Regions from separate parts of the Homo sapiens genome. Here region 2 is linked to region 1. Evidence: fine-mapped expression QTL. A gene starts in region 1. The other region holds a variant in brackets. All regions are shown on one strand. Distances are from middle to middle. Region 1 holds the start of LINC02648 (long intergenic non-protein coding RNA 2648). Region 2 has its middle 11 kb from the start of PRKCQ-AS1.

Evidence for each region.
Region 2: its variant is fine-mapped to the expression of LINC02648 in whole blood (TOPMed, PIP above 0.99).

The regions. Positions count from the first base shown.
Region 1 is chr10:6,612,199-6,623,496 of GRCh38, forward strand. LINC02648 (long intergenic non-protein coding RNA 2648) reads left to right here and starts at 6,518. Exons shown (of 6, transcript NR_120634.1): 1 at 6,518-6,578; 2 at 8,720-8,975; 3 at 9,512-9,664.
Region 2 is chr10:6,586,250-6,597,547 of GRCh38, forward strand. No RefSeq gene overlaps it. Among named protein-coding and RNA genes, the nearest start is that of PRKCQ-AS1, 11 kb to the left of the region's middle. The variant C/T (reference allele first, on the strand shown) is at 6,167.

The sequences.
Region 1 (11,298 bases):
AAATGAAAACATGTGCTTCAAAAGATATCATCAAGAAAGTGGAAAAACAACCAAGAGACTTGAAGAATATATTTGCAAATCATATATCTGATAAAGGACTTGTGTCTAGAATATATAAATAACACAACTCACTAATTAAAAAAAAAACACCAAGTCAACCATTTAAAAAAATGGGCAAAAGATCTAAATACACATTTTCCAACGTAGATATAAAAATAACCTGTACATACATGAAAGGATGTTCAACCTCATTAGTCATCAGAAAAATGCCAGTGAAAACCACAACCACTTCACACCCACTAGGATGGCTGTAATTTTTTTTAAAAAAAACAGATATAATAAGTGTTGATGAGAATGCAGAGAAATTAGAACTTTTATTCATTGCTGATGGGAATGTAAGAATGGTTTAGTCACTTTGAAAAACAGTCTGGCAGTTCCTCAAAAGGTTAAACACAGAGTTAACATATGACCCAGCACTTCTACTCATAGGCATATACCCAAAAGAAATGAAACATATGTCCACACAACGACTTGTACATGAATGACCACAGCAGCATTGTTCATAATAGCTAAAAGCTGGAAATAACCCAAATGCCCGCCATGTGATTAATAGATAAGCAAAATGTGGTAGATCTATACAGTGAAATATTATTTGGCAATAAAAAGGAATGGAATACTGATATATACTACAACATGGCTGAACTTTGCAAACATACTCTGTGAAAGAAGCCAGTCATAAAAGATCACATGATATATAATTCAATTTATATGAAATATCCAGAATAGATAAATCTCTAGAGACAGAAAGTGGATTACTGGTTTCTTAGGGCTGGAAGGAGGGCTGGGGGGATTAGAGAGTGATGGGTAGTGGGTACAGGTTTCTTTCTGGGGTGATGAAATATTCCAAAACAGATTGTGTTAAAAACCACCACATTGTATACTTTAAATGAATTATTTGCATGGTATGTAAATTATATCTCAATAAAGTTGTTACAATGAATACATATTCTTGTAGCAAAAAATAAAAGATGAGATAGTGAAATGCACAAAATGCTACTAAAAGGTGGTGTAAAATCAGGATACAAATATCCAACATATTTGGTAACACGCAAGAGAGCGGTCACTTTGATAAGAGCTGGTAGAGCAGGCTTACCTGAAAAGCCTCTAAGAATTTCCAGGCCATGAAGAGTGTTTATTGGAGATTTATCAACATGAGTTCAAAATGAGACCAATCTGTGAACTAGAGCAGACCCCAAATATTGGTCTGGGTGAAAAAATCGACAAAAATAAGGACTTGGGCTTGCCTAATGTTGCTTTCACTAGGTTTTACCATGTACTTAGCAAGAAAGTAAAGGAGACATTTAAAATATGAACATTTTGTAATGGGGTAAGGGATCATTGTTCTCTGATCCCTTACCTGTTCCTGCTATAGATGAATCCAGGATTCGGTGGTGCCTGTTCCAGGAACCTTTAGTGTGAAGGATCCTCCAGGTGAGAGAAGCCTTTATGTCTTCTGAAATGGTTCTGCTGTGTCCCCACCCAAATCTTGTATTGAAGCTCCCATAATTCCCGCGTGCTGTGGGAGGGACCCAGTGGGAGATAATTGAATCATGGAGGCAGTTTCCCCCATACTGTTCTTGTGGTAGTGAATAAATCTCACCAGATCTGATGATTTTATAAGAGGTTTCCCCTTTCACTTGGCTCTCTCATTCTCTCTTGCCTGCCGCCATATAAGATGTGCCTTTTGCCTTCCACCATGATTGTGAGGCCTCCCCAGCCACACAGAACTGTGAGTCCATTAAACCTCTTTTTCTTTATACATCAGCCAGTCTTGGGTATGTCTTTATCAGCAGCATGAAAACAGACTAATCCACCTTCTTTGGGCTTGATGGGTGGGGATAGGGAGAGGTGGAGATAACCTGCCTCACTGAGACCTATCATCTGGGTTCTAAGTGCATAATTCCTTGCTGGCCCCAGATACTGAACCAAGTTCTCCTGTGTTTAATTTCTTGCCTTTCCTTCGTGTCTACTCGAAGTTTCATGGCATCAGACGAATCTCTGCCCCAGCGGGGTCATATGAATTTCTTCTGAAACACTCAAATGCATAGGGCAATGAGAGAGTGGAGCATCAGCAGGCTGACATCTGTTCTTTAAGAACTCTTTAGCAGAAATAGTCAGACATAAATGTGCATGCTCATTTAAGCTACGCTCTAGGACACAGTTTCTCTAATGGCATCTTGTGAGATGTCACTGGTGATTCTGCAAGGGAGTGTGAATGAAAAAGTAAACCCTAATTAAAAAAATTTTTTTTGCAGTAGGTTACTGGGGGTACAGGTGATGTTTGGTTACAGTTCTTTAGTGGTGATTTGTGAGATTTTGATGCACCCATCACCCGAGCAGTATACACTGCACCCTATTTGCAGTCTTTTATCCCTTGACCCCTCCCACCCTTTCCCCCAAGTCTCCAAAGTCCATTGTATCATCCTTATGCCTTTGTGTCCTCACAGCTTAGCTACCACATATCAGTGAGAACATACAATGTTTGCTTTTCCATTCCTGAGTTACTTCACTTAGAATAATAGTCTCCAATCTCATCTGGGTCACTGCAAATGCCGTTCATTCATTCCTTTTTATGGCTGAGAAGTATTCCATTGTATATTTCTACCACAGTTTCTTTATCCACTTGTTGATTAATAGGCATTTGGGTTGGTTCCACAATTTTGTGATTGTGAATTGTGCTGCTATAAATCTGCAAGTATCTTTCTCGTATAATGACTTTTCGTATGAATCTGCAAGTATCTTTTTCTTATAATGACTTCTTTTCCTCTGGGTAGATGCCCAGTAATGCGATTGCTGGATCAAATGGTAGTTCCATTTTAGTTCTTTAAGGAATCTCCACAGTGTTTTCTATAGTGGCCATACTAGTTTACATTCCCACCAGCAATTAGAAGTGTTCCCTGATCACTGCATCCACGCCAACATCTACTGTTTTTTGATTTTTTGATTATGGCCATTCTTGCAGGAGTAAGTTGGTATCACATTACGGATAAACCCCAGTTTTTGAACTTCACATACTGCACAATGCTGGTGATGTAGCAGCCCTGTTGGGATTTTGTTAGGGATCCTTAATCCTTGTTGTGTTGCTGTGAACAGGACTGTGTTTATTTGCAGGAGTCCATTCTCAATTTTCTGTGCAAATTGGGGAAGGCTGTTGATAATCGGTGGATGCTATAGTGCCCATGGAAAGACTCTAGTCTGAAGATACCAGTCTCTCCCTCCCAAGATCACCTCCCCTGACCAACCTTCTGCACTCCTGACAGATACAAGGGAGCAAGCAAGTTGCACCCAACCTAATAGTAAATTGCAGGGACATTTCCATTCTAAGGAAGGAATTTTTGTGTGTGTTGCAACTCAGCTTCTGCTCTGGCATTTTGCTGTGGTAAGCATTGCAAGGCAAGGTTTATATAGGTTAGAAGAGAATTTTATTGTGACATTTTCTTTTTTTTTTTTTTTTGCAATTTCTGTTCAAGTATTTATTATGCCCTCTGTGTTATCATTTATTAGCATTTATATTGCCAATCATGTTGGAGAGTCCATGTGGTGATTTCTGAAAACGAGATGTGAGAAAGAAGAGGATAATTTAAGTCTAGACCTACAGATTGTGCTGATAAAGTGATGAAGAACTACAATCTTCTTAGTCATTTCATTGTATAAGTGCAATAAAGGGTATGTAATAAATTTGTATGTTCATATTTACAACGGAAACTGCTTATCAATGAATTTCACGGGGCATTTGTGTCTTGCCAGATTTTGTGTCTTTCCTGGCAAACAACTTGTGACCACAGTGATGGCTCCAGCAGAATGGAAAAGACCCTTTACCTCACATCTCAGAAGTAAAGATGCTGATTATTTGACATCGCCATTGGAATCTCAAAACAGTGTAAAGCATTTGCTAAAAAGAGTCACTTTCTGAGAAATGACTCAGAATTCGACTTACGTACTAGCAGAACTTATTGCCCATAAAAGGAAAGGCCACACTTTTTGTGAAAACTTAATAATCCCTAGGATGTAAAATTATACTGAGTTAAATCCTAGTCCCATTTTTAGTACAAGAAACTGGAAAAAAATAATCCACTCTCAAATGGTAAGACAAATTGAGATATTGCTGAAAAGCCTCTTGACCCTGAAAAGTTCTGAATAATAAACTGATAAAAGCAGCAGCAGCATCTAACTTGACACCAGTCATGTCATTTGTAAGTAAGGTTGGTAAATAGTAATGAAATTCAAGCAATATTTTCAGCTATGAAGAGCTGCTCAAACCAAGCAAAGGCCAAGATCTACTTTAAATTTTGTCTACGTATCTTTAAACAAGGCATCTGTCTTGGGGGCATTGTGTTAGCATCTGTACCGGTAACACCTCATCCAGGGTTGGCTTGATAAGAGGCTTCACATTTTTTGTAGAATAAGAAAAAAACCTGGCATTGTCACAACACACTGATTTGTTCATGCAGTAGTGCTTGGGGTCAAAAACTCTTGGAATGACCAGGCAGAGTGGCTCACACCTGTAATCTCTGCACTTTGGGAGGTCAAGGTGGGCGGATCACTTGAGGTAAGGAGTTCAAGACCAGCCTGGCCAATAGGGTGAAACCCCATCTCTCTTTTTTTTTTAAATTATACTTTAAGTTCTAGGGTACATGTGCACAATGTGCAGGTTTGTTACATATGTATACATGTGCCATGTTGGTGTGCTGCACCCATTAACTCGTCATTTACATTAGATATATCTTCTAATGTTATCCCTTCCCCCTCCCTCACGCTGCGACAGGCCCCGGTGTGTGATGTTCCCCTTCCTGTGTCCAGGTGTTCTCTTTGTTCAATTCCCACCTATGAGTGAGAACATGCAGTGTTTGGTTTTCTGTCCTTGCAATAGTTTGCTCAGAATTTTTTAAACCCCATCTCTACTAAAAATACAAAAATTAGACAGGTGTGGTGGCGGGCACCTATAGTCCCAGGTACTTGGGAGGCTGAGGCACTAGAATCACTTGAACCAAGGAGGCGGAGGTTGGGGTGAGTTGAGATTTCGCCACTGCACTCCAGCCTGGACAACAGAGTGAGACTCTGTCTCAAAAAAAAAAAATAAAGAAAAGAAAGTAACAAAAGGTTTGAATGCTCCTGCAAATACAGTCAAACAGGGATAAGTTCAACTGAGATTTTTAAAATTTTGTGAAAAGTCAGATAAAGAGACATCATCTTCTCCTCCAAACAGAAATGTCATGACTGTGCTTGAGGGATACTTTCAAGATGACACAAAACCAGGTTTTTGGAGTGCTTTGAAGATGGAGAATGGCTTATTAACACTAGTCACATTGGCAGATGTTTTTCATAACATCAACCAGTTGAATAAGCCTCTGCACAGCCCTGGAGAAAATGTTTTCACCAAAAATGTCAAGAGTTTTTGGATTTAAAAGAAAACTAAAGTTTTGGAAAAAACCATGAGGCAAAAGAAATCCTTGAGATGTTTCCATTGTTGCTTGGGCCTGGGGCCATCAGTAAGTCTCAATTCTTATTGAGCAGAACCTGGCAGCACTGTAGAATGAAACTGAACCATACCTACCCTCTCTTTAAACACAAGTGCATGACCAGGCGAGGGAGCGTTTCGTTGAATCTTTGACTCAGTCTGAGAACAGAGTCTGGAGAGAAGAGGAAGAATCCTGCACCCCATGCAACCCCAGACTCTCTAGATGGGACTCACATATCACTCTGGAGGCGAGTCCTGGGTTTCTGGGTAAGAGAGTGCTCTGTCAGCCTCAGGGAAACCATGAACACTTCACTGCAGTTGCAACTTCCCGCACATAGGAACAAATTTTCTGTTATTTAATAAACACCAAGAGCAAGGGAAAAAGTTGTAGCCCTTCAGTTGACAATGACATCTGTGTGTACCTCAAGTTTGACTCAGAATTGAATTTTTAGGCAGCACATGTGTCACATTAAAGAAGGTCAAGTTGATCACCAATGACCAATGGTTTAATCAGTCACGGCTTCGTAAAAACTAAAAAGGACAGAATTCAGAGGGCTTGCAGTTAGTGGAACACGTGGAGGGCCCTGGAGGGTGTCATGCCCAGGACATGATAGCTCTGTACCCCATCCCATGTATCTCACCATATGCATCTCTTCATCTGTGTCCTTTGCAACATTCTTTAGAATAAACCAGTAAATGTGTTTCCCTGAGTCCTGTGGGCTGCTCTTGCAAATTAATCAAACCCAGGGAGAGTCGTGGAAACCCTGACTTGATGCCAGTTGGTCAGAGTTCAGGAGGCTTGGACTTGCAACTAGGAGGAAGGAGGGGGTTGGGGACTGAGCCTACAACCAATGGGATTGGTCACTATCTCCAGGTAGATAGAGTTGGAATTCAGTTGGAGGACACCCAGCTGGTGTCCACTGCTTGGTGGTGAGAAGAAACTCCCACACCTTTGGTCACAGAAGTCTTCTGTGTTTATTGTTCTAGTGTGAGAACAGAGGAGAAGCCTGGTTTGAGTGAGTTTTTCCTGAAGCAAAAGGGAAGAGCTTAATTTCAAAAGGTAAGTTAGTTATATTTTTCTCTAGGAAACAATTGATTGCTTAAAAAGATATGATTAGGCCGGGGGCAGTGGCTCATATCTGTAATCCCAGCACTTTGGGAGGCCAAGGCGGGCGGAACACCTCAAGTCAGGAGTTTGAGACCAGCCTGGCTAGCATGGCGAAACCCCGCCTCTACTAAAAATACAAAAATTAGCTGGGCATGGTGGTGGGCGCCTGTAATCCCAGCTACTCGGGGGGCTGAGGCAGGAGAATCGCTTGAACCCAGGAGGCGGAGGTTGCAGTGAGTTGAGATCATGCCACTGCACTCCAGCTTGGGCAACAGAGCGAGACTCCATCTCAAAAAAAAAAAAGATATGATTAGTTTTAAACAAGGGAAACAAATTCCACTTGCATGTACTATGTGTCACACATCTTTAGCCTTTTGTATCCTGAACATCATTTAAAACTTCCCTCCAGATTAGAAAGTTGAAGTCTGCTCATGGGGCCTTCAGTTGCTGTCTTAGAAATTCACTCTCAGGGTGTCAGAAAGTCCATCCTCCATAGGCATTTACAACAAGGAATTTGATTCCTTCTATCCCTGGTCAACTCCAGGCTTTTTAAAAAAGTAGCTTAATAAATATTAAGAGTGCATTTTTCTTTGTGAAGTTTGACACTCATTAATTAACACAATTGTTGGAAATGGGAATTTTTTTTTTTTTTTTTTTGATGGAGTCTCACTCTGTCACCCAGGCTGGAGTTCAGTGGCATGATCTTGGCTCACTGCAACCTCTGCCTCCTGGGTTCAAGCGATTCTCCTGCCTCAGCCTCCTGAGTAGCTGGGACTACAGGCGCGCACCACCATGCCTAGCTAATTTTTGTATTTTTAGTAGAGGCGGGGTTTCACCATGTTAATCAGGCTGGTCTCGAACTGCTGACCTCGTGATCTACCCTCCTCGGCCTCCCAAAGTGCTGAGATTACAAAGATTAGTGGTAGTAAAGCGGTATGGGTGGCCTAAAATATTTTAGAGACATTACTTACACTTAGAATAGCAAATTACATCCCTATCTGGGCCTGTGTTTAGAATGAGTCAGACGGTTTTTTGTTGCCTGGTGACAGGCGTTGGGGTCACAGAGTCCTCTTTCTGCGATGTTGTGTATGACCCAGAGAGTCTCTGGCAAGATGTGGACAGATCTCTAAAAGGTCGGGGAGCTCAGTCTCCACGAAGCTTGCAGAACCCTCCCCATCTGCCTGCTAATAAACGATTACGTATAAAAATGTCTAAATACGTGGTGGTGTTGAATCTGTGACTTGGTTTTATTATAACCAGGTGGCAGGAAAGTAGCCAACCCTCACTCACATAGAACTTTCCACACTACTGTTTTCTCTTCCAAAATAACCAAGAATTTTTCATGGTCAAGTACAAGTGGAAATGGCTGTCGGTTTGCAACAGCCAGGTTTACCAATGGATAGTGTTTTGCCAGGGGGTGGGACCTAGAATGAAAGGGGCAAGAGATCTGAAGGATGGGCAATGGGAGTGGTTGCACTATGGATCTGTAGAATATTCATCCTCCTAAACTGAATTAGGAGGAATGTAGTCATGGGGGTGGTTAAATGATGAGAAAATATGATGGAGTCTACTGATTGACATGAAGGAAGAATTTTTGCCATGTTCTTTTTAATGTTTTTCTTTTTCTCCTCTAAAAATAAGATTTCAGTAGTGTGACCACAAATTAAACCTTAATGACACCCTAAGTAAAGAAGAGACTGGCCCCTCAGGGAATCCTTTATTATTTAGTATGGTAACTTGCTTCTTGATTTTACAAATATGAATTCTCTTGAAGAGAAATTTTGATCTAAGGCCAACTTTTCCCTTAATGGTTCCTTTGTGTCCATGAAGAGATGGTAAATGCATACAAAGTTATTAGCAGCACTTTTCATAAAATAAAATTTAACACAGAAATTTGCTGCAAAATTAACTGCCAAAAGTTTTATATAGAAATGAATTTCGGGTTAACCACTATTTTATTTTACATTGAACATGGAAATTCACAGAACTTATTGACTTTATTATTCCACTATGTTCTTTCAACATAATTTGCTAGTCTATTAAACTCTTGCCCAGGAAAATAAACCTGAAAATAACCTTATTGCTCATTTCAGGAATATCTTGAAAGACGCATCAACTCACCATTAGAAAACATGAAACGACAGATTATATCCTAAGATTGTGTGAACCTCTTACCTGGAAACCCGTACAATTGCTTTATCTACCAATCCTAAACTATTATATCTTGATCTTTACTCAATCCTAATTACACACCCACATTGAAAGACCTATCTTAATTCAGACTTCAAAATCTTACAAACGTCCAAGTCCCTCCTTTGAAATGCTACTAAGACTGCAGTAAGAATACATGTAAGTATAAACATATCTATATTAGCTTTTTTTAAAACAACAGTGTCATTATCCTTTTTGTGAAACCATATGCTAACATTTATTGAGCATTAATAAGCACTGGGGCTGAGCACCTTCTCACACTGAGTTCTCAAGACAACAGTGTATGAAAGGTACTATTATTATTCCCACTTTACAGAATGGGAAAATGAGGCTTAAAAACATTAAATGCAGTAATTTCCCTATGGTTGCACAAGTAGGAAGGAGAGGGGGCCAGGAGCCCTGGTCGTTTACCCTCAGAGTCCACCTTTTGAACCAATGTTAATCTTCTTTCCAATTCTTTTAGATAAGAATGGTTCTTAATCATGTGCTGCATGTTTCACTGAGTTTTCTTCTTATCTCCTCTTCTAATCGAAACCAGAAGACCCAATATAATATCTAGTGTTCTCACCCAGCCCACATGCTCAATGCTGTAAAGCTGAAAATGGATCCAATGCTGTCGCAGAGAGGCAGAGAGTGAATTCCCAAGAGTTATGAGTCATCCATTCCCCTTTCAGAGCATGCAGTGACTGAGAGGAAGAGAGATACTAACACTTGAAGTAATCCAGTCTATCAATAGGAGATGGACTGCTTTGATTTAAAGCGATTTACAAAAGGATTTGGATACCTCATCTCTCCTGTTTCGCCAAGGTCTTGACTCATCGCTGCAGGTTGTATAATTAGTCTCATTAATCTAGCAAATGATGGCAAAATGCTTGGTAATGATGTCTAACTGGGGTTCCTTTCCAAGGAACCTTTGTTGTTTAATTAGGAGATAATGGATGAGCTTGTAGAGAGACCAGGGTTATAAAAGGCAGTAGCATGTCAATGTGCCCATGCCTAGTTCAATACAATGGTTTTTAAGCCAAGTATTCAAATAAATTGACATTATGTAGGTACATGAATTTAAAAGGGGTCATTATTCACTAACTATATTTTAACATATGCTTAGAGCAACCCATTACTGCTGGGGATAATAAACGGTGCCCAGATGAACAACCACATTGCATACAAAGGATGGTGTCTGAGATCACTACTGGGCCCGACTTAGCCACCATCTTTCCAAATAGAATCATAGGTTTGGAAATTTATCCCTTCTATGGATGAAGCACCAAACTATTAAACTGCAAAACCATTCTGTATTTATTCTTTCCAGCTGCAGTTCCCTTGACAATAAATGAAGAGTTTGTCCTCTGATTATGTTTGATTTGTTCTCTTATTTACCCCAAAAGATTATATTAAAATTTATATTTCAGTTTGGATGGTTTCAGTTGTAAGTAACCAAAAAGCAAACTCAGACTGTCTTAAACAAAAAGGGAGATCTAGCGGCTAGAGGCAGAGCAGGCCTAGCTCTTGAATCAGAGTCCTGGTTTTAGTCTTTGATGTGTCTCTCCACCCTGCCCTTCTCTGACACTCAAATTTCATGGGTGCTACACGTAGAGGGAGGGTAGCATGGAAGGTGTGGAGATAACTACTATGTCTACTTACGTGTCCACGAGTAACCTCATCACCACGTTGGGAGAAGCTACATACGATACTTTTTGGGAGAAACTGAGCTCCGGAGCTGCTTGGTCAATCTCCCTGTAACCGAATCACAGGTTCACTTGATCACCACCTGCAGAGTCCAATCAACAAGAGCAAGGTCTGGTATAAAGAAAGTGACATTTTATTCTAAAGCTAGCTTACGGGAAGAAGTCCAGGCTTCCTGCCTTAAGGGTACTGCTTCAATTTTGGAGGAGAAAGTGGGCACTTTTAAAAGGGGGCCTGGCATGAGCGGCATGCGGGGGAGGGAGTGAGCAGCTGGGGGTCCATGGGACTTGCCTCGGTGCTTTATCTACTGCTCAAGCCGGCACCATCACAGGCAGAACCAGGTTGCAAAGCAGACTTGTCTCAAGATATGCTCCAGGTGGGAGAGAGTTTCATGCCGGGAATACTTTGGGTTGTAAATTGACTGTTGTTTCTTGAGGCATCTCCTTGGGGAGAGGTTTCTGCTCTGGAGCCTCTAAGTAAGTATACAGTTAGATAAGCTTGCCTTGTAAAGAACATCTGGAGAAGGCAGAATGTTATAATTGCATTTCTAAAGAGCTAAGTAGGAAGTGGGGAGATGGGAAAAGGAGAAAAGAGAAAAGAAGAAAATAATAATGAAAAAATAACGCGTTCTCTTTGTCTTAATAAATGGGGATACTTGGTTACATGCCCGCTGACAAAGACTCTCTTCTTGATTAAGCTAAGGCTCCTCTGAGCCATCTTCTCAACTAGGCCTTAACCTTGGCCCATGAGGATGGCTGACTCTCAGCACAGACAA
Region 2 (11,298 bases), 26 kb before region 1:
AAATTAAAGAAAGTACTAATTGTCAGCGATGGGGGATGTACTGCTATTTGCTTCTAGTGGTACTCACTGCTCATTTCCTATATTCACTGGTATAAAAAAATTTCAAACACCCTCAAAAAAGCCTATACTGGTGGTACCAGGAAAACGCTGAAAATCATTACTTTCTGTGTGGTGTCCAGCTCTTTTGGTTACATCATCACTTCGACCATTCACTTTTAAAGAAAAACTTTTGTGGAACAAAAATATAAAGATTTATTTTTTTTCTTGGTGGCTTAGCACAGTGGCCTAATGTGGCTGACCATGTGCACCTGTTGTGTGAGTCACTTAGACGTGCTTTGTTTCTTGGTCACAGTTGATCCCTCAACTCAAGCATCTCACCCTCAAAATGTTTGTTTGGGACCCAAGAGGCAAACCTTGAGATGGGTTATTTCTTTCACCTTGGATTGGCTCATCTGCTGGGAGTGGAGCCAAGCTGACATTTCCTTTCCTTTTTGTCTGCCTATCACTACGTAGAGGCAGCACATAAGAGAGGGAAAGCCATGCGCGTGGAGTCCAGCACATCACCCAGAAGGCAGATGTTCTATCTCCATTTTACTCATTAAAACAAACAAAACCACACCTGGATTGCCTGGTACTTAAATAAAATGCACTATGATGATTGAAGAAAAATATCTTATATTTAAGGAATAGTTTTAATAGCTTACATCTGTATTTCTATTAGCTTCCGTTTCTATTTTTAATATTTGTATAATATTAAAAGTAATTTTAAAAATGAACTAATCTTTTTACATCTCTTATGAGAATTTAATGGAGATATGATGTTTGAAGATCAAAGATACGTGGTATTTGAAATCAGAAAATGTGTTTGCTTTTCTACACAGATTACAAATATCATGCATTATTTCACAAACTCTTCTCAAAGTGTTGATTTTAAAATTAGTAAAAGGAGGGTATATTCATATCACATCCTGGCATTTTTATAGGCAAGATTGAGCAGCTATAACCTCTAAAGTGCTTTGATCCCTATAAGCCTCAAGAAGAGAATGGTGCAATTTGAATTAATAACTACCCATTATAGAGCATTTGTATCACAGTATTTTCCAAATACTATCTTATTTAACCCTACAGCAATCCTATGATATGGGGATTATGTACACATTACAGATGAGAACTTGAGGCTCGGAGAAAGTAAATAACTTACACAAGATCACAAAGCAAGTGACTGCCAGAGCCAGGATCAGAACCCAGTCAGGCTTCATTAGGAGCTCTGCTGAACTCTGTCTAGAGAATTCTCACCACCTGCTGCAAAGGCTAAAAGAAAGGGTCATATTCCACATGTAGATTTTGAGAAATATTTGTTATTTTTCTTATGATAAAGGTTATGCATACACACTCACACACACACACACACACACACAACTAGAAATTACAGAAAAGAAAAAAGATTAGCCAGAATGTCACCACCTAAAGACAGATAATATTTTGGTGTTTTCAAATATTCTTTTATCTATACTTTTTTGAATTATTTTATTTTAAAAATAACTTTTACTGGTTGCCTGATTATGAAGTAATAAATATTCACCATAAATATTTTGAAAAATATAAAACTGTCTATAAAAGAAATTTGAAATGATTGCTAATCTCAAAATATAGATACCTGTCAGTACTTTGGCATTTTATCCTCCTTGTGGCTGAGGTCACATATCTTGAGACTGAAGCACAAAATTTCTATACCATACAGTTTATAGTTTAGGCCACAACATCATTTTTAAAATTGTTTCTTTGGTTTTTACTTGATTTGCTGATGTTTTATTTTTTAGAAAATTGCAGATGTGATTTTTAGGCAGCTGATTGGAATGTTCTGGTTGCTCTGAATAGGACTAGCTACTTTGTTTTTTACTGAAGGACAAATATTATTCCTACACACATAAAAAACCTCAAAGAATGAGTAATGATACTGTTTAAATCTGCCCTTATAACTCCAAAGAATGACTTCAAATTTTCTTTCTTCCAAAGCAACTTTTAAAAGCCTTTCCACTGCACAGTGAAAGAAAACCACAAACTCCTTGTTTAATAAGTGGGATCACGTGCTTTTAACACGAGGAAAAGGTCAATCTGAAGCAACTGATATGGAACTGCCAGAGTAGGTACGTAAATTTAGGAGTTACATCAATTTGGGAGGGCTGCAGAAATGTGGATCAGATTTTAATCACACTGAGGAAGTTTCTTTGAGCAAAAGACGTGATGGTTGTTCTCTAGAACCTTTCTGTCCTGTCCGTTGCTTTGCCAAGGGAGCTAGAAAAGAAATAAACATTTAAGAACTTAAAAGGCTTCTGGATAAAACTCAGCTTGGTGCAACACATTTTAGCTATCACAGCTTTACTCCCAAGCTTCCACCTTTCCTAGGAGCGCAGTAAAAACCTGAGCCAAAGAAACCAAACAATAGAACTGAAATTCTTTAAACTTGAGTTCTTGAGGTTATAGTCTTTGTGCACTCCATAAAGTCAAAGCCCTAAAAAGATTTTTAGAAAACAAAACACTTGTATCTGTATCTATTTCCCCAAACCTCTCTACATTTACTTACCTTTTGCAGACTCATGCTTTCTCTTTTCCTTGTGATTGCATTTGGATAGAATGAAGACCTCTCCTACAGTTCTCAACTTAAATTCTTTCTTTTATTTCTTAGCTACGAAAGAAAATTCAAAAAATTCAATGCTCTACTTTGTAACTCCCTGGACATAGTGAGTCCATTATGTACATCATGAGGAGGGAGTGGAGAAAGTGGAATTCTTATGTAAATTCATACAGCTTTGGAAAATGGTTTAGCAGTACCTACTAAAGCTGAGCATATGCAAAACCAGTGACCCAGGAATGTCATGGGTACATAACCTACAAAAATGTAGACAGATGCGCTAAAAGACATGTACAACATGTTCACTGCAGCCCAGTTCATCATCACCCCAAAGTGGAAACATCTCAAGCGTCCACCAGCTGGAGGCTGCACAATAAAACTGTGGTACTTTCGTCGGTAGAAACATGCCACAGCTTGAACACACGCTGAAAACATAACGTCAAGTGAAAGAAGCCAGGTCCCAAAAAAAGACATACTGTATGATTGTATTTACATTAAGTCCCAAAACAGGTAAACTGAATTCATGCAATGGAAAGTCATGAGAGTAGCTACTGCATCTGGGGAGGCAGGTGGTGGAGTGCCAGGGAAGGAGCACCAGGATGGCTCATGGTGCTATTTTTATGACTTGATGTAGGGGATAGGTAATAGGTAGGTCCACTTTGGAAAAGTTCATCTAGCTGTGTATTTGTGACTTGCAGTCTTTTCTGCATGTGTCAATTCCAGTAAAAAGATTACTTGAAAATCAAGTATAATATTATTGTATTTACAAAGCCCTTTCTACGTAGCCAGAAACAGGGTTGGTTTCCCAGGTGACTGAGAGGTCGTCAGGAGCTTAGTGAGTGGAGGGCAGGGGACAAGTGTGTTCATTCTCTCTCCCTCTCTCTCTGCTGTTCTGTAAGGTGACAAGTTAGGCTTACTGCCAGTGTGACCTTAAATAAGCCATGCATGCTTTCTGAATCCTTTTTTCTTATTTGGTGAGTGACGTGCTAGTTAAAATGGTGTCTCCAGCCCTTTCCCGTCCTCGCTGCTGTGATTCAAGCCCCCTCCTTCTCTGTGGGGCTTCCTCCGACCTCTCGATTTCACTGTCACCTTTCTCTCTTCCTCTCTCTCCTGCTTCCTCCCTGTCCACCCCCATCTCTGTCCCCCCAGGGCCGAGTTTGTTTTATATCTCTTTTGGTATCTCCTCTGGTTTTCTGGCACCATGTCTTACGTAGAGCAAATAATAATGCTTTAAAAAATTCTCGATAAAGGAAAAAGTTCAGTAAAGTGTGAATTTCACATTGTAGTCAGTGGTTAAATGCCTCAAACACTTAAAAAGTAGAATTTATCTCAACCTGGGCAGAAGGCAGTCCATGCCAATTTCTAAATGGAATCCAATAGCAAGAATGCACAAAGAACAAGCAGGAGTGGTGAGGATTTCCTCACTCTGTCCCTCAGAGGTGGCGCGTCTCATCTGTGAGGTGAAAGTGTCATCACGTCATTGACATAAAGTATAAGTACAGGGAACATAATCATCTGGGAGATTTTAATTTGAGTTAATAAGAGATGAGATTTTCAGGCTAAAAGTCTTGGGGCTGGACAAAGAATATTTAAAAGGAGGGTTGGTGGATAAAGAAACTGTGGTATATTTATACGATGGAAGACTACTTGGCCATAAAAAGGAATGAATTAACAGCATTTGCAGTGACCTGGAGATTGGAGACTATTATTCTAAGTGAAGTAATTCAGAAATGGAAAACCAAACATCATATGTTCTCACTGATATGTGGGAGCTAAGCTATGAGGATGCAAAGGCAAAAGAATGATACAATGGACTTTGGGGACTTGGGGGGAAGGGTAGGGGGCGGCGAGACATAAAGACTAGAAATATGGTGCAAAGTATATTGCTTGGGTGATGGGTGTACCAAAATCTCACAAATCACCACTAAAGAACTTACTCCTGTAACCAAATACCACCTGTACCCCAAAAACTTATGGAAAAATAAATAAAAGAGGGTTGGATGATAAGAATTTGTCATCTTGTTTTCTGAATTGTTCAATTGTACTTAATTGTACTTCTTTCCTTAAGGAGTTGAAAATCTTCCTAAACTGCTGGAGGATACACCTCTGATAGCTTGAGACAAATATCCTCTTGATCATTGTTTCACCATATTTGTCTTTGCTCATGGAGAACCATTTTGATCCGTGGTTTAGCCTCCCAGGTGATTGAACAATACCGGTGATCTGAGGCAGACCCTCTGTGACGGATAACAGGTGAGTCTCTTGCATGTTTTTGCATCATGTACTGATTACCCAGACAAAACTGAGTTGGCACAGCTGCTAAATCCAGGATCAAGTGCTGGGATAGTAGTCATTCAAGGAGGAGGTGTCCTGAGGGGCTCATCCCTCAGTAGCCAGCTGTGCCCAGAGCAGAGAGGGGCACAGGGTGACAGAGTGAGGCAGGCAGAGGAAGCCGCACATGGCCAGGTGGGAATGGACATCAGGCTCCTGACTGCTCTCCTCACCCAGCTACACCTTCAGCTTTTCACTGGCAGACACCTGTGGCTGCTGAGATACCATCCCCTCCAGTGAGTCGGCTGGCAATTAGCTTATGGTCCTAAGGATATTTCTGGTGTTGCTGAGAAAGTCAGAGAAATAGAGGAAAATGTCAAGCTATGCTTTTAGAAAAGAGTAGATGTTAACTTGTTTGGCTTCTGACTCTCAGCCTTAAAGAAACATGTCACCTTCTTCCTCACCTGTAACGGCAACAAATCCTCGTAACAAACATCTTCCATTGATACTTGAAGAACATGCTCACATAGTAGGTGCTGGCTAGTTTGTACAACACGCCTCTGCTTGTATTTATCTACTCACAGGTGAGAATGAGTTGAAATAAAACGTGGAAGTTCCTAGGAAGCACTCAGTATTGCCCCTCCCTGCCCCTTTTCTGCTGTTATCTGCTGTGGGAGCAGGGGAGCAGGGCAGTGTGCTGTGGTGGCAGATGGTGGACTTCAGAGTCCTAGAACTCCCAGATTCATGATCATGACAGGTCTGGGCTCCACCACTGACAAGCCATGAGGACTTGGGGAGTCCCATGATCTCTCTGGGCCTCAGTTTCCTCTGCTGTAAAACAAAGCAATGGATGAGATAACATTTCTTTCCACTTGATAAATCCATAAAGTGCAAAAGAACCTAACTCTGACAAATATTTGTATAATATTTTTACTCCAGCAGGATGCATGATTTGTATTCAGCTGAGATGGATTGACTAAAAATTACACCTTCTGCTCACTCTAATTTATTGCTGTAGAAGAAAGAATAAGTGAGATATTTCCATTTCTAGTGACAGGTGGCTGGCACTTTGAAACCTTCCATTTCATTACTCACCTTAATGTTTTCACTAAAACACATGTGGTTTTCAAACACAGGAAGGAAAACATGGTAACCTGTGGTTACAATTTCCACTAGAAAATAGAAAAGGTGTAGGTCAGAAAGAATGTTTGTGGGGTGTTCCTTTTTTACTTTAAACATGAAAACCCATGTCAGAAGAGTTTT[C/T]TCTTGAGAAGAACACTGTTAATTGTTGCAATTTTCAAAAGTTGATGAAAATGGGGCCCAGTGGCCTCTGTTGTTGCAACCAGGGCAGTTGTGGTTGAAGAACTCTGAAGGCTTTAGTGCCAGGGATATTTTTAATCTTCCACTGTGTCTTCAAGCAGTCTCTCTCTTCTCTTTTAATTCAAATTCTGGGAAGCCTAAAGAAAATGTCTTTTCAGGCAGTCCTTCTCATACCCAAGTAGCTCCAAGAATCCCTTTTCAGATCCCATCTTGAAGCAAATTAGCTTGTTCAAATAGCATTTCCTCTGTAGCAATTACCTTCACAGTTATTTTCAGCTACTGGTTCCGTAGTTTGCTGTGATCAGTTGAATTTACCTGATACCTAAAATTAATTAATTCTTCAATAAATATTTGGAGAGCACCAACTAAGTTTACGACATGCGCACACATCTGAGTTAATTGGTTAATCAGAAAGAAATGCAAAACACAAAAGAAAAACTCTTTTGAATTTTCTAAATTGTAAACATCTACAACTACTAGAGATATGGAGTAAGTTTTAAGTAAATTCTATTTTCACAAGAGACTGGTATTTGAACTTCGGAAGTCCTCTTTCCAGATGGCCGGGGTACCTAGCAGGAGGGGGTGGGAAACCACTCCAATAAATGTTATGCGTTGGTTCAAGAAACCAGCTGTTCAACCTGCAAGAGAAAAATGTGTTAACGGAGTAATACATACATAGTAGTTTAGATTTTTTTCTTCTAATTGCTTTACTGATGACAATCAAATAAGAATATGCGTAGAGCTCTTCAGGGTATCAATAAAAACAGATGCAAGTCATGTTCACGTGCAGGTTCAGTTTTAAAGGGAAGAACCGCAGCATACATAGAACAGGAGAGCGGGACTGAGCTGTTCTGTACCAAGCTCTTATCTGCCAGACAAGATCTTATCTTACGTATTTATACACAAGCACAGATGTGCATGGTGAAACATGCATTTGTATCAATACAGGATAGCACTGGGGAGGACTCCTGATGGGTGGGAGGACTCCTCCAGTACTTGTTCCACTGCAGCCTGCCCTCGGCACAAGCAGCCAGAAAGATTCCCTAACAGCAGAGTCATACCTGCCACTCTGTCCCAGCCCCCAGGGCTTCCTTCTCCCTACAGGACCTGGCCAGTCCCTAGGCCCCAGATCCGCCTCTGATTCATCTTCCCCACCCAGCTCCAGCTGCATCAGCCCCTGTTTGCTTCTTAGCATGCCGGCAGGCTGGAGCCCAGGGCACAAGTCTCCATGTTTGGCTTGAACATCAATTTCTCCAGGATGATTTCCCTGATGACTCTGTTTTAAATTTCAGGCCCTCTGTAACCCCTGTCCACACATACACACTAGACCCTATGCTCCCTTTCCCTATCTCCCTCCCCATCCCTCTTCCCAGTTGGCTTCACCTTTCTGGAATAGAAACTCTATGCAAGCAGGGATTTTCCCCGTGTATCACTTATTATTGTATCCCAACAACTAGAGAGTACTTGGCACATAGTAGACGTTCAAACAACGTTCGTTCAATGAATGCATGAATTAAATGTAACTAATCACAATACATTCACAGATATATGAAATAATTCACTTACTTATGCAGAAGAATTGGGTAGCTATGGATTTAATTAGTCCTTTCACGTCTTAAGAAGTATTTAATTCATTTACAAATATAAACAAAGAGCAAATTCTTTACCTCACATGGAATATCCTCTTTTGGACAGCTGGCATCAAATTGGCTCCGTGAACATTAGTCATAACACAATGGTCATCTTTCTTTATTCATTGGTCATCATTCTAACAGTGTAGAGTCAGAGTCCCTATCTTTCAGATAGGGAGCTGTATTGGTTTTCTACAGGTGCTGTAAAAAACCTCTACAAACTAAGTAGCTTAGAACCAAAATGTATTGCTGCACAGTTCTGTAGGTCAGAAGTCCAGGCTCACTCAGTTGACTTCTTCAGGTTTCACAAGGCAGAACGTCGGGTTGCTGGCTGGCCTGGGCTCCTACCGGGAGGCTCCAGCAAGGTGGGAGGAAGGGATCCCTTCAGTGTCCTGAGCAGCACTGTGGTTGCCTCCCTCCCTTGGCCAGAGGAGAAACATTTTAAGAACTGACACAGATGGCACTCGTGCCATATGGATAACTCCTACTAGTCTGGAGTGTGGCTTTGGTGCTGTTGCTGCAGACACCTTGTGCAAATGAATGGCTGAGGAAGACCCCCTTCCACACGATGCTGAGTAAGAGGAGCTAGTCTCGGAAGAAGAGCACAGACCCTGTGATTCCATTGCCTCAAATACCAGAGCAGGCAGGACCTTATCTGTGGCGGTCAAAATTAGATTAGTGGATTCCAGGGTCAGAGGGTGGTGGACAGAGTTTGACTACACAGGAACATAAGACACATTTCTGGCAAGATGAAACTATTTTATATCTTTTTGAAAAAGTTATTTATTTATTTATTTATTTAAGTTAACGCTTAATTTTAATATAATTGTATATATTTATGGTATACAACATATTTCCACATGTGTGCACCTTGTGGCATGGCTAAATCAAGCTAACTGACATACGCATTACCTTACATACTTACGGTTGATTTGTGGTGAGAACACTTAAAATCTACTCTCTTAGCAATTTCAAGTAATAACAATACATTGTTATTAATTAGAGTCACAATGTTGCACAATGGATCCCTTGAAGGAGTCCTCCCCTCTATCTGAAATTTTGTATCCTTTGACCAACATCTCCCTGTCTTCCCTTGCCCCCCCTCAACCCCTCCCCCAAGCCCACTGCCACCGGTTTTCTATGTTTCGATTGGGATAGTGGTTACATGATACATGTTTGGAAAAAATCATTGACTTGTACAATTACAATGTGTGAATTATATTGTATGTAAATTATTCCTTAACACTATTGACAAAAATAGTAAAATTAATAAAACAGTGTAAATACTACACCTAATTTTAAACAGAAAAAAAGATGAGAGACATCATTCCAGCATATTTTAGGAGGTCATTTAATATGAGATCTACCCTCATAACAGATTTCTAAGTGCACAGTTTCGTGTTGTTAACTACAGGCACAATGTTACGTAGTGGATCTCTAGAATGCAATCTGATTTCCTCAACCCCCATAGTCCGTCCTATACAAAGGAGTTCTCTGTGGAGTCATTTACCTTGCTTATTTGGTTGGTAAATTACCACCTGTTCCTGTTGATGAGTTTGCAGAGAAATTCACAGATGTTGCTGAAATTTTCAGCCTAGCCATGTTGGTTTTGAACAGTGACTGGTTTTGCTTTTTGTGAAGAAAACACTTGCTCGAACAGCATCCTTTGAAGGAGACACTGTAAGGTCAAAATTCTTTTGCTGGCTGCCTCAAGCTACTGAGTGAAATCACATTTCACTGTATACTTTTGTCCTCCTTTCTAACTGATAGAGACATGCCAACTGTGGGGAAATGGTAAATATGTTAGATTTTCTTCCATTTTCAGACAAAAACGACTCTTTAACTGAGGGTATTATGTTTCTGATGTGCTTTTTTAGTTGCTATTTTTATGTAGGTTAAAAAAAGACATTTGATGATGTCTCGTAAGTATTTTTCCAACTTATACAAAGCTTTTCATGTAATAAAAACATCATTACGACACTATCAAAGACAATGAGCTTATTAATGAGTGTCAGGGATTTTGCTAATTTTTGGAGTTTGTATCAGTTGTATGATCTCTGCCTTAAAAATCTGATTTAGTATTAAAATGCTTTTTTCAATAATTAGTTGTAGCAAATTTAAACTTGTGAGTTTATATATTTTTTTTCTCTTGGTACTATGATTCTGGAGTTGATGATGTAATAGAATCATAATGGTAATTTACTAAAAGCTTGAATCACTGAATCTCAAAGAATTAAACACCAAGCTGAATGGGAAAATCAAAATAAAAGTTACTGTGTATTTCAAGATTACTTGAGAGATTTTTTAAATGAGAAGCTAGAAAGCAGATATCTCAAGCGATTTAAGTAGAATTATGTGAAACAAATAAATAACTTTCAGTATACCATTTCTTTTTAAGTCAGAGAAGCAGAGAAACTAAATACATGGACATTGGATAGGCCATCTTTAAATGAGAAGTCAGAATTTATGTTTCCTAATGAAATTTAAAGATTTAATAGAGATATTTAAATTCCAACTAAAATTATTTCTGTAGGCAGAGCCTATCACAATTGCTGAAATTATAGCTAGGAAATTAGCAAATGCCCTATCATACAGTAATTTATCTTTCCATTTTTTTGATGATATGGAAAATGAAACTTTTTAATCTTTAAGTTTCCATTAATTGATTGCATATTATAGAACTTTTATAAATATGATTCTTACATTAGACTATGAGGTAGATATTATATCTTTGTTTTACAGAAAAGAAAATTGAGGATCAGAAAATACGCACAATTTGCAAAAACCATGGGTGAGTAGATGGCAGAGTGTAGATTTGAAAGCAGTGTTGACTTTAAGCCTGTGCCTCCAGTAACCTTCCCATGATACACAGTCACCATTCAAAGAATATTTGTTGAGGGAGTGATTTTTTTTAACAGGATTAAAAATATAAAACAAGAAGGAGGAGGTATGAGGCAGCTATCTAAATCCATCCTTCCGCTGCAGATTTTAAAGCCTTTTTCCTTTTCCATCTTGCCTGCCTAATTATTTTATCATTTTAACACATTGATATATTCAGTGACTAATCCTTTACTGCCTTGCAAATATGTTACAAGCATTTTCTAAGTCCTAGAATTGAAAAGTAATGATTACTTAAAAAAAAAAAATCAGTGACTTCATTCAGGAAAATCCACTGGTATCCAGGCCGGTGGATTCAGGCTCAGCAGTAAGGTCTTGCTTTTTGTCTTCTTTGCTTTCTTCTCTAAAACATTTTTTCAAATTGAGAAATTTTAAAAACCGTGTCTATTTATGGTGCACAATATGATGTTTTGAAATATGTGTACATTGTGGAATGGCTACATCAAGCTAATTAACATGTACATTACCTCAAACAGTTTTCATTTGTTTGTAGTGAGAATATTTAAAATCTCTGAGCAATTTTCAAGTATACGACACGTTGCTGTT